4 linked regions of the Homo sapiens genome follow. The protein of the gene in region 4 purifies or fractionates together with the protein of the main gene of each other region. This does not show direct contact. Each region holds a gene or a part of one and is shown on either strand. Other genes may lie near its edges.

Region 1 (3,690 bases), on a different chromosome or scaffold from region 4:
AATGGGAACATGACTATGAGATACACTGGAATGGAAAAAAAAATCAACAATCTGGTAAAACATCAGAAGTAGGGAATAAAAGTAAACGACCAGTCATATTTGTATTTCATAACCATAATTTATGGGAATGTTTGTGTAATATTGTAGGAATTCAAAATCATTTTAAAAAAAATGGAAGTCTCACTTTGTTCCTGTTCAACTTAATAAGAACAAAAAGATTCTCCACTCCCTTCATCTTGCCTGTCCACTCAACTTCTTCCTTCTCACCTTTCATTACGGACAAGCAGACTCACTGATGCCCAAGAACATTCTGTCCTCAATAAACTCCAACCTGAGAGGTTAAGGGATTTACTCAAGGTCACAGGGAGACAAAATTGGATACATTTACTTCTGATTTGGAAATGATCATTAAAGCTCGGAAAAACAGGAATTTACTTCATTAGCTAAAGTATCACTCTCACATTTTAAGCCAATGATGCATCTTTAAAAAACACTATTTCTTTAGTGGACTTTGATAAAATCTTAGCTCTAAATTTAATAGTTTGAACTACCTCATTGATCAGGCCCTATAATCCAACCTGCAGAAGCCCACGCAACATGATTTGCTTTTTCACTTCTTTACCACAAGGAACACAATTCCCTCTGCTGGTCTTAAAAAACTAATCAGTTACCTACAGAAATACTACTGTCCACATATATGGGAAAAGACCCACCTTCAAGATACGACTCATAGTCATCTGGCTGCTGAAGAAAGGCCTTAAGATTATTTAAGATCTTCTGTTGCCGCAGGTAGTAAAGAATTTTTTTTGCGTAGTATTTCCAGGTCAAAGCTTTTCTGGAAACAAAAAGTCAGTAAGAATTAAGATTTGAAAACTTTCAGTTATCTATTTTTCACATTACACTAACATACCATGTAGTTTGCTTAACAAGAAAAATATAATTGGTTCATTCTCTTATAATAATTATAATGGAAATAGCAGTCTTTGAATTGTAATATAATACTAAATTAGTTGTACTGAAATCTGAGGAACAGTTATCTGCCTGGCTTCAGACTTACTTGCCTGTATCTTTCATAAAAGGAAATGGAAGAGCAGCCTGAAAAAGGAATTGAGCTGGGGGAGGTTCAGAAGATGGGGAGGCATCTAGAACCTTTTGCTGGTCCCCCTGCTTGGGCCACTTGGGCCTGGGCACTCACTGCCATGGTGAGTTCCTCACGGTTTCACATATTATGAAAACTCCTATTTTCCAGACCAGAGTTCTCTCTTGAACTCTAGACCTTTGTATCAACTACTATCCATCTACTCCACATCCCACTCAGATAGCTGAGCACTTTCATCTTTCTTCCCCTCCCAGAGTCACCCTCATCTCTGATCAAGGCATCTCCATCATTCTAGTGAGGCATAAAACCTGCGAGTCATCCTGGATGCCTTGCTTTCTCTCATAAGCCATACTTAAGACCTGTCAGCCAATGCTATCGGTACTATCTTCAAATTACATCCAAAATGTGCACACTTCCCAATTACTCCCACACACCACCATCAGCATTCCTGTGTTGCAGCAACATCCTCCTACCTCAGCTTCCCGCTTCAGACCTGGCCCCTCCACAGTCCATCCTCAATACGGCAGCCAGAGCACTGCAGTAACACGTACGGTCACGCCACCCAATCCTCGCCTCCAAGTCTCCAGCGGTTTCCCACCTCGCTCCAAGAAAAAGCCCAAGTCCTAAGGAGGACTTAAAAGGTCTCTTGAACTCTCGCCCCATTACCTCTCTGACCCCAATTCCTGCCACTCCCCCTCAGTCCAGCCACCCAAGCATTCCAGCTGTTCCTTTACTGTCTGGCGGGTGCTCACCTTAGTGCCCTGTTCTTCTGCCTGGAACATTCTCTCCAGAGACTGCAGTCTGTTCTCACCTTCTCCTAGGTTTCAACTCAAATGTCCCCTTGAGTAAGGCCCCCTACATTATTTTAAATGGTACCCCCTCACCACTCCCCTGCCTTCTTCCCCGATTATATTTCTCTATAGCATGTTTCATTTTCTAATGTAACCAATTTCTTAGTGCCCATCTCGCCCACTACAGTATAAGCCCCATGAAGGCAGGGATTTTTTTTGTGTTGTTCACTGCTGTATCCCTAGTGCCTAGAATAGCATCTGGCACATAGTAGATGTTCCATAACACTTGTTGAGTGGATAAAATTCTTCACCACATATCCCAAATACATATGGGGATTATAAGAAGCAGGAGAGAGACAGTGATGAAACTTATCTGGCTGACATCATGAAGAAACAAACAACTTGCCAATCTTGAGAGAGGTCAATGAAAATCTGCAGAATGATCTATGTTTCATCTACTTTTTAACCTTTGAGTTGTAAAATATATCAATCTAGAAAATTGTGTGAAACAAACAAGTAGCTTAATGAATCATTACAAGGCACATTCCTGGATCTAACACTCTTGCCAAGAAAGAAAACTTTGCAAACGGCCAAGAAGCCCTCCGGGGCCCCCCGCAACAATAATCACAAACCACACCTCTATGGTCATCACTTTCTTGCTTTTCTCTTTAGTATTACCATGAAATATACATCCCTAAACAGGCGAGTCTGTTTTGATGCCTTCTAAATCTCTTAATCTACAGGATCCTCCTCCATCTTTTTTTTTTCCCTTGCATTTTATTTGTTGAAGAACCTGGGTTGTTTGACCTGCAGTTTCCCATCGTCTGAAATTTGCTGACTGTACCCACATGATGTAGTTTAACATGTTCTTCTGTCTTCTGATCTCCTGTAAATTGGATGTAGAGGCTACATGAGATACAGATTCCATTAATTTAGCAAGATAATTTCATAGAAGGTAGTGCATTCTCCCATCAGGAGGCAATAATGCCTGGGTGTTTCTTTTGTGATGTCAGCAGCACTGCTACTCAATGTCTTGATCTGTTCATTCATTTGAGGTTACGAAGTGGTGATATTAAAATTCAATCAACCCTTCTTAATTCATTAGCTGGGATACTTCTATAAGGAAAAACCTCCCCGTCTATTATTTGATCCCCCATGATACAGTACATGGAAAAGGCAGGATAAATGCTCATATCTTCTATTTACAATTTTTCAAAACAATGATATGGGCTTCTATTTATCCTTCAAAGGTGACCAATTAATTTTTTAGTATTATGGACTCAGAGAGACAAGCATATTCGATGCATTTCAATCCATTCCTGTTATTATCCACACTGATGCTCTAACTGTCACATCTTTGGCCACTGGAAGCCTCTTCATATTGGTTCCTCAATACTTCCGACATAAAGTAGTGTCAGTTTTCTTACTATCTGGTTAGGTTTCCAGGATGCACCACCAGGCTCATCTTTTAAAATCCTTGCATTGGACATACAATCAGTCTTTCTCCAAAAACCCTGGCTTCTTTTGTGGAAAATGTTGTATCAAGATGACAATCTGGAAACCAGGGAAGATCAATTCCACTAGGTTGGTTATTATTTCTAGATCTTTTCAGCAAACAGACGTAGGAAGCCTAGTGTTGATGTGCACGTGTGTGTACATGTACATATGCACATGCACTTACATATACCTACATGTATTTAAATATAAAATACCTTTTGAGTTCACACTGGCACTTCTAATTCAAAAATATATGTCTCTGACCTTCTTCTATCTTATATCTATGTCTTCTTTATTCCAGGA
Region 2 (3,690 bases), on a different chromosome or scaffold from region 4:
GCTAACTGTTGCTCCAGCCTTACTAGCAGTCTACCATCAACGGTAAAAGCATTCCCTTCTCAATCTTTGTGCAAAAGTTTCCTTCCAGGTTGTTGAGTTGACCCACGAAAGTCATGACGCTAATAGAATTGTCTTGACACAAAAACAACAGCATTGAAGAAATCAGAAATGGTGCAGGCTTTCGGGTGTGGGAATGCTTTTTTCTCTCTTGAATGAAGTTGCTGAAGAGTGGTCTTAAGTTATCCTGTTCTGTAACCAACAGGAGGACTCACGAATGGCAGTGGAAGATACATCTCTGCTGCTCCAGGCGCTGAAGCCAAGTACCGCAGTGCAAGCAGCGCCTCCAGCCTCTTCAGCCCGAGCAGCACTCTTTTCTCTTCCTCTCGTTTGCGATATGGAATGTCTGATGTCATGCCTTCTGGCAGGAGCAGGCTTTTGGAAGATTTTCGAAACAACCGGTACCCCAATTTACAACTGCGGGAGATTGCTGGACATATAATGGAATTTTCCCAAGACCAGCATGGGTCCAGGTGAGTACTTGGCTTTGGCACTTTAAGGTACCCGAAATTGTAATGCCTTAACTGTCTTGGCTCAGATGGGTATCTACTTAAATAAATTGCCATATAGTAATTTTTTAAAAGCGTGCCTCTTAGTTTGCATCACATTATTTCATAGGGATTTAAGAAACAAACATGAACACAAAGACATACATACACTTCGGCTGCTTTAAGCATTATGAAGAATCTTTTGCTCTCAAAGAGTTGCTATTCAAATACAAGTTTGATCTAGGGTGCTGAGGAGTAAGACAGCTCTACCACCTTTCTTTGTTGTTCCACTCTGTAGAAGTGACAGTCTATGTAGAGACGAGAGAAGAAACTATTATAGAAGACAGAATTTGGTTTGGTTTACCCCTTCCTGTTGGGCTGCTGCAGTGGGCTTCACAGAAAGCGAATCTGGTCCTGGGGATAGAGCATAATTATGGTGACAACACCCATCCTTCTTTCCCATTTCTGTTTCTGTTTCTTTCTCTGATACTGTGTCCAGTGAAACAGTTTCTACAGAAGCTACCTCCTCCTTAAGTTCTGCCAGCTTGCTACTGGGCCAAAATTTCTCATATTTGAATTCTATAGGCTAGATTCAGAGGCAACATGATTTTCCTGATAGTGGTCATTTGGACTAAAAAAAGGCAGACTGTTACTACTTCAGAAGATAATGAATACTGTTTTGTTTTTGTTTTTTTGTTTTGTTTTGTTTTGTTTTGTTTTTTTGAGACAGAGTCTTGCTCTGTCGCCCAGGCTGGAGTGCAGTGGCGCAATCTTGGCTCATTGCAAGCTCTGCCTCCCGGGTTCACGCCATTCTCCTGCTTCAGCCTCCCGAGTAGCTGATGAGTACTGTTTTATATGAAAATAAGTTAAAGAATATAGTAAGGACTGTAAGCTTTGAGTTCATTGATGTGAGGCTGGTTTCTAAAGGAAAAAAGTCAAGTAGGGTACATGTTGTGTTATGTCTCCCTCCACCCCTCCTCTCTTCCTGCACCCCTGCCCCTCCCGCCCCCCCCCCGCCCCCCCCGCTTTCATCTTCCCTCCCACCTTGCACATAAATAAGATTCAGTATGCATGCCCTACTGGAATGAAATGTGCCAACATTTATATGTAATTTTCAAAGCTCAATTAAGTTAGGACCTTCTTCCTCTATTTAAAAACTCTTCAAGGGAGTTCAAGTGATTCATTCAAATAAAGTTTGGTTTATTGTGTGCATGTGTGTGCACACATGCTCACTCACATGTTTCAGAACGGATGCAGTCTATAAACCGAGGTACACTGATGTATCTCCAGGTCTTCCTTCAGTGCTGTGATTGCCCTTTTTACTTTGTACTTCAGATTCATTCAGCTGAAACTGGAGCGTGCCACACCAGCTGAGCGCCAGCTTGTCTTCAATGAAATCCTCCAGGCTGCCTACCAACTCATGGTGGATGTGTTTGGTAATTACGTCATTCAGAAGTTCTTTGAAGTAAGCCTTTGTTCTTTCTATCCTTTGACTTAAGAGAATCTGCAGAGCATTTTGATTTTCATTAGCCTTTTTAAGCATAGCAGTCCCATTCCAGTCCTCAGAATGAAGGGTGTGTGGTCTTTTTGAAGAGGTTTTTAGTGTTTTTCCAATTCATTAGCAGCAGTCTATCTATTCTGTATGGTTTAAATATCCGAGCAGATAATGCCAATCTATTTTGGAAATGTGTTTCGAAAACTGGTGTCCCCATTTAGGACCCAGCACATTATTTCAGATTGTTATAATAGTTTCACAAAACGTGTCACTTAAGGAGGAAATAATCCTTGTAAAGTAGTTTTAGCAGGATCACAATAAAATATTGCCAAAAACAAATTTTTCTAAGGTTCTTAGAGAATTGTCTTTGGACACCGACTCCAGTATGTTTCATTATCAGCTAGGGTCACAAGAATTGTTAAATGCTGCTTCTTGGCTGATCGTTTGGCCTTGATTTCTTGTTTTACTTCTGTTAATTTGAATAATGTTCACTTGTTGTATCATTGTCTTTGGAAAGAATGAGATTGTTAGGTTGATGTCTTTTCCCTCTAGTGAGGTAAAATTTCAGAGAGGCAGGGACTTTTTTGCTTACCATTGTAGCCCTTATTATCTGGTATTGGCAACCCTAAGGTGTAGATGCAGAATGGCACAAAACTTCGAGATGAGGAGGAGTCTGGTATGGGGAGGAAAATGCTGGAATTCTGCACATTACCTACCACAAAACAAATTTGTAAATGTCTTAACATCTCATCCTGTTTGATTTGTATGAAGATGAAAAACTGACGTACTCAAGTTTTACCTTCCCAAGTTTTTTCATGAAGACTTATGTTTTTTCACCCTGAATTCTTCAGCTTTGGACTAAGAAACCAATCTAAACATGACTTTTGTATTTTTGATTTTAGAATGACTTTGCACTGCCGTTTTGTCACATATATAAAAATACTGAGCTTTCTAGTTCTGGAGGCTGATGCACCTTGGGGTGACAAAATGTACAATGGATTATAGCCATATGATTTGGACCAAGCTTGAGAACTTCTCTGGATCTTAGTTTCCCTTGGGAGAATGAGGAGGTTGGATGGGCTGAGAATTCATAAAGTCTCCTCCAATCTCACGATTATGTGATTGAAATGAAAATAATAAGCCAAGGATGGAAAATCATTCTAAGTAGAATTTTAACATTGTGTAGCCTCACTTCTTGATTCTACTGATTTTTCCCCTCCCAACTCTGTTACCTTGTGTAAATAGGAGAAAAAAAAATCAATTCTCTTAATGATGTAGAATACTATTTCAAAACAGTGTGTCCATGTGTGCTTTGGCAGTAAGAGTGTAGGATTCTTTTTTTTGACACACAGTCTTGCTCCATTGGGCAGGCTGGAGTGTAGTGGTGCTATCTCAGCTCACTGTAACCTCTGCCGCCTGGGTTCAAGCGATTCTCCTGCCTCAGCCTCCGGAGTAGCTGGAGTTAACAGGAGCGTGCCACCATGCCCAGCCAATTTTTGTGTTTTTAGTAGAGGCAGGATTTTGCCATGTTGGCGAGGCTGGTCTCAAACTCCTGACCTCAGGTGATCCACCCTCCTTGGCCTCCCAAAGTGCTGGGTTTACCGGTGTGAGCCACTGCACCTGGCCAGATTCATTTAATAGTATGAATTA
Region 3 (3,690 bases), on a different chromosome or scaffold from region 4:
CTACTTTGAGGATAAGAGACCATGAAGTTATGTGAATGACTGTAGTAAATTGAGGGACTCTGGATTTGGGGTGCATGAAAGGACTTCAGCGTATGTACAAAAACCTCATGGGATTGTGTGCAAAATTCTCCGTGCATAGATTCATTTACATTTTTTCTGAGGGAAAGATCCATAACTTCTATGAGCATCTCTAAGGATTGATGATCCAGAAAAAGTCAGTTCCTTTGATTCTAGATAGAAAACAAGCTGTTCTTGGTCCTCTGACCTGCCGATCAAATCCTGGGATTTCCTACTGTTCCTTAAATAATTCCCAGGATCTCTTTCTTTTTTTTTTCGCCTCCTTTCACTATCTCTCTCACCTCCTGACTCAAATTAGAATCAGGGGCCCAGGAGGTGGATGTTTCTGAGAGATAGAAATAGACTTCCCCGAGCTGAAAAGACAGTGTTGTATTCCAATTCCACCTCACGTTTTTCCTACCTCCTTATTTTTTCAACTCTTTTCTGTCTGCTCTTAGAAAAAGATACTATGACCATTCAGAATTCGACCATGACGGTGATGACAAGAGTACGTGTTTTTAACAAACATTTCCAGTAGTTAATTGATTCAAAGAAAATTCCTGCAGGAATAATACCTTAAGTTAATATACAGTCTGTGCCCTGGGGTACTCAAAGACTTTCTGGTATACTATCAGTTTTCCCCCATATAAGATCCCTGTGAAACAGGGAAGGGAAGACATTATTATCCTTCAAATTTTAGAGGTAAATCAGCAGCACAAAGAAACTAAATGACCGTGACTAGGAATCAGAAGGGCTGATCCCTAGATGGCTGTCTTCCCATTTTATGTATAAGGCTACTGTGTCTGGAAGTGTTATGCCAAATGACAACATGGCTTGAAGCTATCTGATATACGCACATTTTGAGAAGAGTAATCTGCACTGAATCCCACTTGTGACATTTCCATCTGAAAGTTGTCTCCTCCTTGAACAGTACCTGGAACATTCAATTTTAAAAATTGTATTACTGTCAGTAATTTTAAATCAAGTTTTCAAACACAAGCAGGCACGTATGTACACACATGCCTACAAACACAAACACAAACACACACTGTTCCAATACTCACCCAAAAATACAGAGCTTGCATATTCTGGGAAGAAGAAATTACTAAGAAAGTGTTCTAGCAGGTTATGGAAATAACAACACTTCCAAGGTAGTGTTCAAAGTTGGCATTAACTTTAATTGAACATTAATGTATTTAGCAGAATATGTATGACGTTCTTGATACCAAAGGACACTCAACAAAGGGTATAAGGTAAGGTGAAAACTGAGATGATAATTTTTTAAAAACTTGATCATTACTAGCTAAGAAACTAACTGAATTTTTAGCTTTGAAATATGGGTACTGATAATGTACACATATCTCAGATGCAGTTGGAAGGGCTGGGCAATTGATCTGTAGTGAAGACTGCTGGGAGATAACTGAGTTAGCTATTAGGAATCAGAATTCAAGACTGAGTAGGAATTTTACCAATTGGGAAGTTTGTTCTGGTTCTGTATATGTGCTTGCCTGTGTCACTAACACTGTAAGATGCAATTGGTACTTATTTTCCATACAGTGTGATCAAAATGGCTACGTTTCACTAATCTTCACAAAAGGAAGCTAAATTACTGGACTCACACTTTAATATAGAAAAGAAGACAAACTGTACTGTACAACATAGTCTTATTTAGAAGATAAAATAATTTACACAGGATGAGTAGAGATACTTTTTAATAAAATAGAATAATGTTCCCCAAAGTCCATAATAGCAAATAATGCTCAAAATCATTTCTAGCTAGCTTGTAGATTGCAATTGTTCTCATTCATTCCACTACAAACAAATACAATTATCAGTGTGGATAGCCTAGTGATTTTGTGTTATCTCAGGGTATGCTGGATTTAAATGGTTATTTAAACAACTTTGAAGCACCATGGGATACTGAAGAAGCAATAATGCTTTTTGGGTAATTCCAATGGATAATCAAATCAAGATTTGAGTATATGAATGAATAATTTATGCAATTCCTTTAGCCCCAGACTCTAAGGCTGTACCTGATACATAGGTTTCCAATAACATATGGTCTTTATTGCAAAGAGTTATTCGGGTTAACCATCAAGAACTAGGATTTGGGTGATGTGTGTTTTTTTTTTCTTTTAACCAACTGTGAAGTGTGTGCTAGTCCCCCACACAGTGAGCTCCTGAACACGTGATCTTTCTGCACTAACTAGATTTTCCAAGGCCACCTAAGTAAATTATTTTAGGTCCTATAAATAAAATGCTTCCTCAAAAACTGAACTATTAAAAATCTTTGCTGTATTTTTCTAATTTTAAAAATATATATGCTTACTGTAAACAAATTCAAGAATTTTAGAACTTACATAACACAGTGTAAAAAGGTAAAACTATTTATGATTCTAATAGATAGATATTCATACATTGTCCCCCAAAAGTCATAACAATTTATCATCCTATCAACAGTGTATGAGCTTCTTTGCTTCCTGATAATCTCTCCAGGATTAAACATTATTATTCTGTGTCATCTTTTAGGCAAAACATATTGTCGGTTTAATTTATGTTTTTAAATACTTACTGAAAGTATTTAGAAATATACTTTGTAAATTGGGAATATTTTCTTATGTTTATCAGTCATTTGTATTTTATCATTTATAAACTATTTATTCATGTTTTTCATCCATTTCTCTTACTGATTGTAGTAGCTCTTTTTATACATGGTATACAAGTTAACATTAGTAAAGCAAATATGTGATAATAAACAATTATTTAAACATTTTGAAGAAAATTCTTGAAAGGAGGTTATTTTTTTTACCTTCAATGCTGAAAATTTGTTCTCCTAATGTCCCAGCCTTTTCTAGTAGAGCTGCTTCATCAGACACATTGAAAAAGTATCTTTCTGTTGGAATACTAGCGATTGCTTTTATTTCTTTTATTAAATTTTTAGTATCAAGGGCGTTTCTGTTTAAGTACCCAAGAACCTTGAAAATAGAGGAAGAGAATGTGCAGTCATTACTGCTGTACATTTTCCCTATGAGTACATTCTAGCCTATTTTGAACACAATATTCCCTCTGGAAAAGTAAATCAAGCAACATTTCCATAACCCTTTATTTAGTAGACAGGATTGAAAATCATCAAGAAGCAGAGATAGAGTAAGAACTTTCTTTTATATTCAACTATGAACAGCCAATGGGAAAGTGCAGCCTTGAGAAGTGATGCTATAAAGAAAGATTTACCCAATAGCGGCAAGACAAGTGAAAAGAAAAGCCACTTACTGCTATGCCAAACCTCAGTATATTGTCATGGTTGCATTGATCAATCACAGCTTTCAACATTGAACCATCATGTGATTCACCGTCAGTTACAACTACCATTACTTTCGTAGCACTTCGTCGCCCACCAGAAGCTGCTGAATAAGCATATTTTCTGTGGCAGATAAAATTAAATAAAGACTTGCTATCAAAATATGAAGTTAATATGAGAACCTCTGGTTTAAAATAGAAACATGAAACTAGCTTCTTTAAACACAATCTATTGTAACTCCATATTAATTCTGAGGACATATTTAATGTTCCATTTGTAGCTTGTAGAGAAACATATACAAATGGAAGTCTTGCTTGACATTAAAAACAATGTCT
Region 4 (2,528 bases):
CCCTCCTCCCCTCATGGCAGCCCGGTGCCCGGGGTGGGGGCACGGTTACTTACGAAGCAGATGCCGGCCTTGCGGCGAGGGACGAAAGTGCAAATGTTATGTGGCCGGCAGAAGAAGGTGACCACGGTGACATTGAGCTCCTGCAGGACCTGGGCTGGGGGGTCGTGGGCACCCACGCGGCCCCAGCCCATGGCCAGGCACTGGGTGCCGTGGGGCACTGGCTGGTCCTGCTGTGGCAGCTGGACTGTGGCGACGGAGGCACTGAGGTTGGCTGGGCTGCTCAGCTGGGGCAGAAGGCAGGCGGCGGTGAGACGCTGCTTCCAGGTCACGGTGGCCGCCCGGGCCGCCCTCCCACCACACCCACCACACCCACCACCTCAAAACGCCGCGGATGCCGCTCCCTCCGCCTGGGCCCCACGACCCCCTTTGTCCCATTTGTCACTATTGTATTCATTCATTTTCTTTCCTTCTTTCTTTCTTTTGAGATGGAGTCTTGCTCTGCCACCCAGGCTGGAATGCAGTGGCGTGATCTCGGCTCACTGGAACCTCCCGGAGCCATCCCATTGGGTGAGGTGGCCAGCCTGGTCTCAAACTCCCAACCTCAAGTGATCTGCCTTCCTCAGCCTCCGAAAGTGCTGGGATTACAAGTGTGAGCCATAGTGCCCGGCCATTCATTCATGTTTTCTTTCTTTCTTTCTTTTCTTTTTTTTTTTTTTGAGATGGAGTTTCGCTCTTGTTGCCCAGGCTAGAGTGCAGTGGCACAATCTCGGCTCACTGCAACCTCTGCCTCCTGGGTTCAAGCAATTCTGCTGCCTCAGCCTCCCAAGTAGCTGGGACTACAGACACCTGCCGTCACGCCCAGCTAATTTTTGTATTTTTAGTAGACACGGGGTTTGCCATATCGATCAGGCTGGTCTCAAACTCCTGACCTCAGGCGATCCGCCCGCCTCGGCCTCCCAAAGTGCTGGGATTACAGCCACCGCCCCTGGCCCATTCATTCATCTTCAAAGCACTTTTTTTTTGAGATGGGGTCTTGCTCTGTCGCCGAGGCTGGAGTGTGGTGGCATGATCACAGCTCACTGCAGCCTCAACCTCCTGGGCTCAAGTGATCCTCCCATCTCAGCTCATGAGTGGCTTGGCGTGTGCTACCATGCCCGGTTGATTTTTAAATTTTTCTTTTGTAGGCTGGACGCGGTGGCTCTCTCCTATAATCCCAGCACTTTGGGAGGCTGAGGAGAGCAGATCACTTGAGGTCAGGAGTTCGAGACCAGCCTGGCCAACGTGGCAAAACACCGTCTCTACTAAAAATACAAAAATTAGCCAAGCGTGTTGGTGCATGCCTGTAATCCCAGCTACTCAGGAGGCTGAGGCAGGAGAATTACTTGAACCTGGAAGGCAGAGGTGGCAGTGAGCCGAGATTGCACCACTGCACTCCAGCCTGGATGACTGAGTGAGACTCTGTCTAAAAAAAAAAAAAAAAAAAATGTCTTTTATAGAGATGGGGTCTCACTAGGTTGGTCAGGCTGCTCCCAAACTCCTGGCCTCAAGTGATCCTCCCATCCCAGCCTCCCAAAGTACTGGGAGTACAGGCGTGAGCCACAGTGCCCAGCCCCAAGCACTTACTGAGCACCACCTGTATGCCCAGTCCCGTTCTAAGCCACATGAGTCCAATAACGAACAACACAGACAAAAATCCTCTGCCCTGGGGAGCTGATCTTTCTGGGTGGGAGGAGGCTAGGAGGGCCCCATGAATGAGAGGAGCACGCGGTTCAGTGGAGAACAGTGAATCGGGGAGGGCTGTGGCTGTCCTCGCCACTTCCAGTGAGGTCAGGGGAGGCGCCGGAGGAGGCGAGGGCACCTGGCTTTCTGGGGGAACAGCACACCGGGCGGAGGCGCAGGCAGGGGAGAGGGGCAGGCAGGGGAGAGGCGCGCAGGGGAGAGGCGCGGGCGGGGGAGAGGCGCGGGCGGGGGAGAGGAGCGGCCGGGGGAGAGGCGCGGGCAGGGGAGAGGCGCGCAGGGGAGAGGCGCGGGCAGGGGAGAGGGGCGGGCAAGGGAGAGGCATGCAGGGGAGAGGCGCGGGCAGGGGAGAGGGGCGGGCAAGGGAGAGGCGCGGGCGGGGGAGAGGCGCGGGCGGGGGAGAGGCGCGGGCGGGGGAGAGGCGCGCAGGGGAGAGGCGCGGGCGGGGGAGAGGCGCGGGCGGGGGAGAGGCGGGGAGGAGGAGTGGCCTGGTGTCCAAGGAGCGGTCTCCCCCGGCCAGTGCCACTGGACCCAGGCTGCAGCGGCCTCGGTCGTGGCCCGGTATACAGTGGGTGCTCAATGAATGCTGGCTGCAGGAATGGGGGTCCCGGAGCCCTCTGGCCGTGCCCCTCCGAGCCCTCGCGGCCCTGCCCGCCCACCTGGATGAGGAGAACGTCGTTCAGTTTGTTCTCCGCGTCGTAGTTGTTCAGAAACACCTGAGCCACCGAGAAGTGCTGCTGGGTGGGCTCCTGCGTCCGCACGTTGTGGGCTCCGAGCACCACGTTCACCAG

What was found. Proteins that work in one complex are often made in the same cells at the same time.
Region 1: the proteins of PRTN3 (region 4) and FBXO21 purify together in Homo sapiens (co-immunoprecipitation; 2 studies listed by BioGRID and IntAct, with this or other methods). This does not show direct contact.
Region 2: the proteins of PRTN3 (region 4) and PUM1 purify together in Homo sapiens (affinity purification with mass spectrometry; one large-scale study listed by BioGRID and IntAct). This does not show direct contact.
Region 3: the proteins of PRTN3 (region 4) and ITGA2 purify together in Homo sapiens (affinity purification with mass spectrometry; one large-scale study listed by BioGRID and IntAct). This does not show direct contact.

What each region holds. Positions count from the first base shown.
Region 1 is NC_000012.12:117,176,807-117,180,496, forward strand, and holds part of FBXO21 (F-box only protein 21), read right to left. Parts: intron 836-3,690; coding exon 714-835; intron 1-713. UniProt on the Homo sapiens protein: Substrate-recognition component of the SCF (SKP1-CUL1-F-box protein)-type E3 ubiquitin ligase complex.
Region 2 is NC_000001.11:30,950,554-30,954,243, reverse strand, and holds part of PUM1 (pumilio homolog 1), read left to right. Parts: intron 1-262; coding exon 263-530; intron 531-1,880; coding exon 1,881-2,010; intron 2,011-3,690. UniProt on the Homo sapiens protein: Sequence-specific RNA-binding protein that acts as a post-transcriptional repressor by binding the 3'-UTR of mRNA targets.
Region 3 is NC_000005.10:53,055,326-53,059,015, reverse strand, and holds part of ITGA2 (integrin alpha-2 precursor), read right to left. Parts: intron 3,479-3,690; coding exon 3,328-3,478; intron 3,033-3,327; coding exon 2,867-3,032; intron 992-2,866; coding exon 915-991; intron 1-914. UniProt on the Homo sapiens protein: Integrin alpha-2/beta-1 is a receptor for laminin, collagen, collagen C-propeptides, fibronectin and E-cadherin. It recognizes the proline-hydroxylated sequence G-F-P-G-E-R in collagen.
Region 4 is NC_000019.10:843,903-846,430, reverse strand, and holds part of PRTN3 (myeloblastin precursor), read right to left. Parts: coding exon 2,397-2,528; intron 285-2,396; coding exon 54-284; intron 1-53. UniProt on the Homo sapiens protein: Serine protease that degrades elastin, fibronectin, laminin, vitronectin, and collagen types I, III, and IV (in vitro).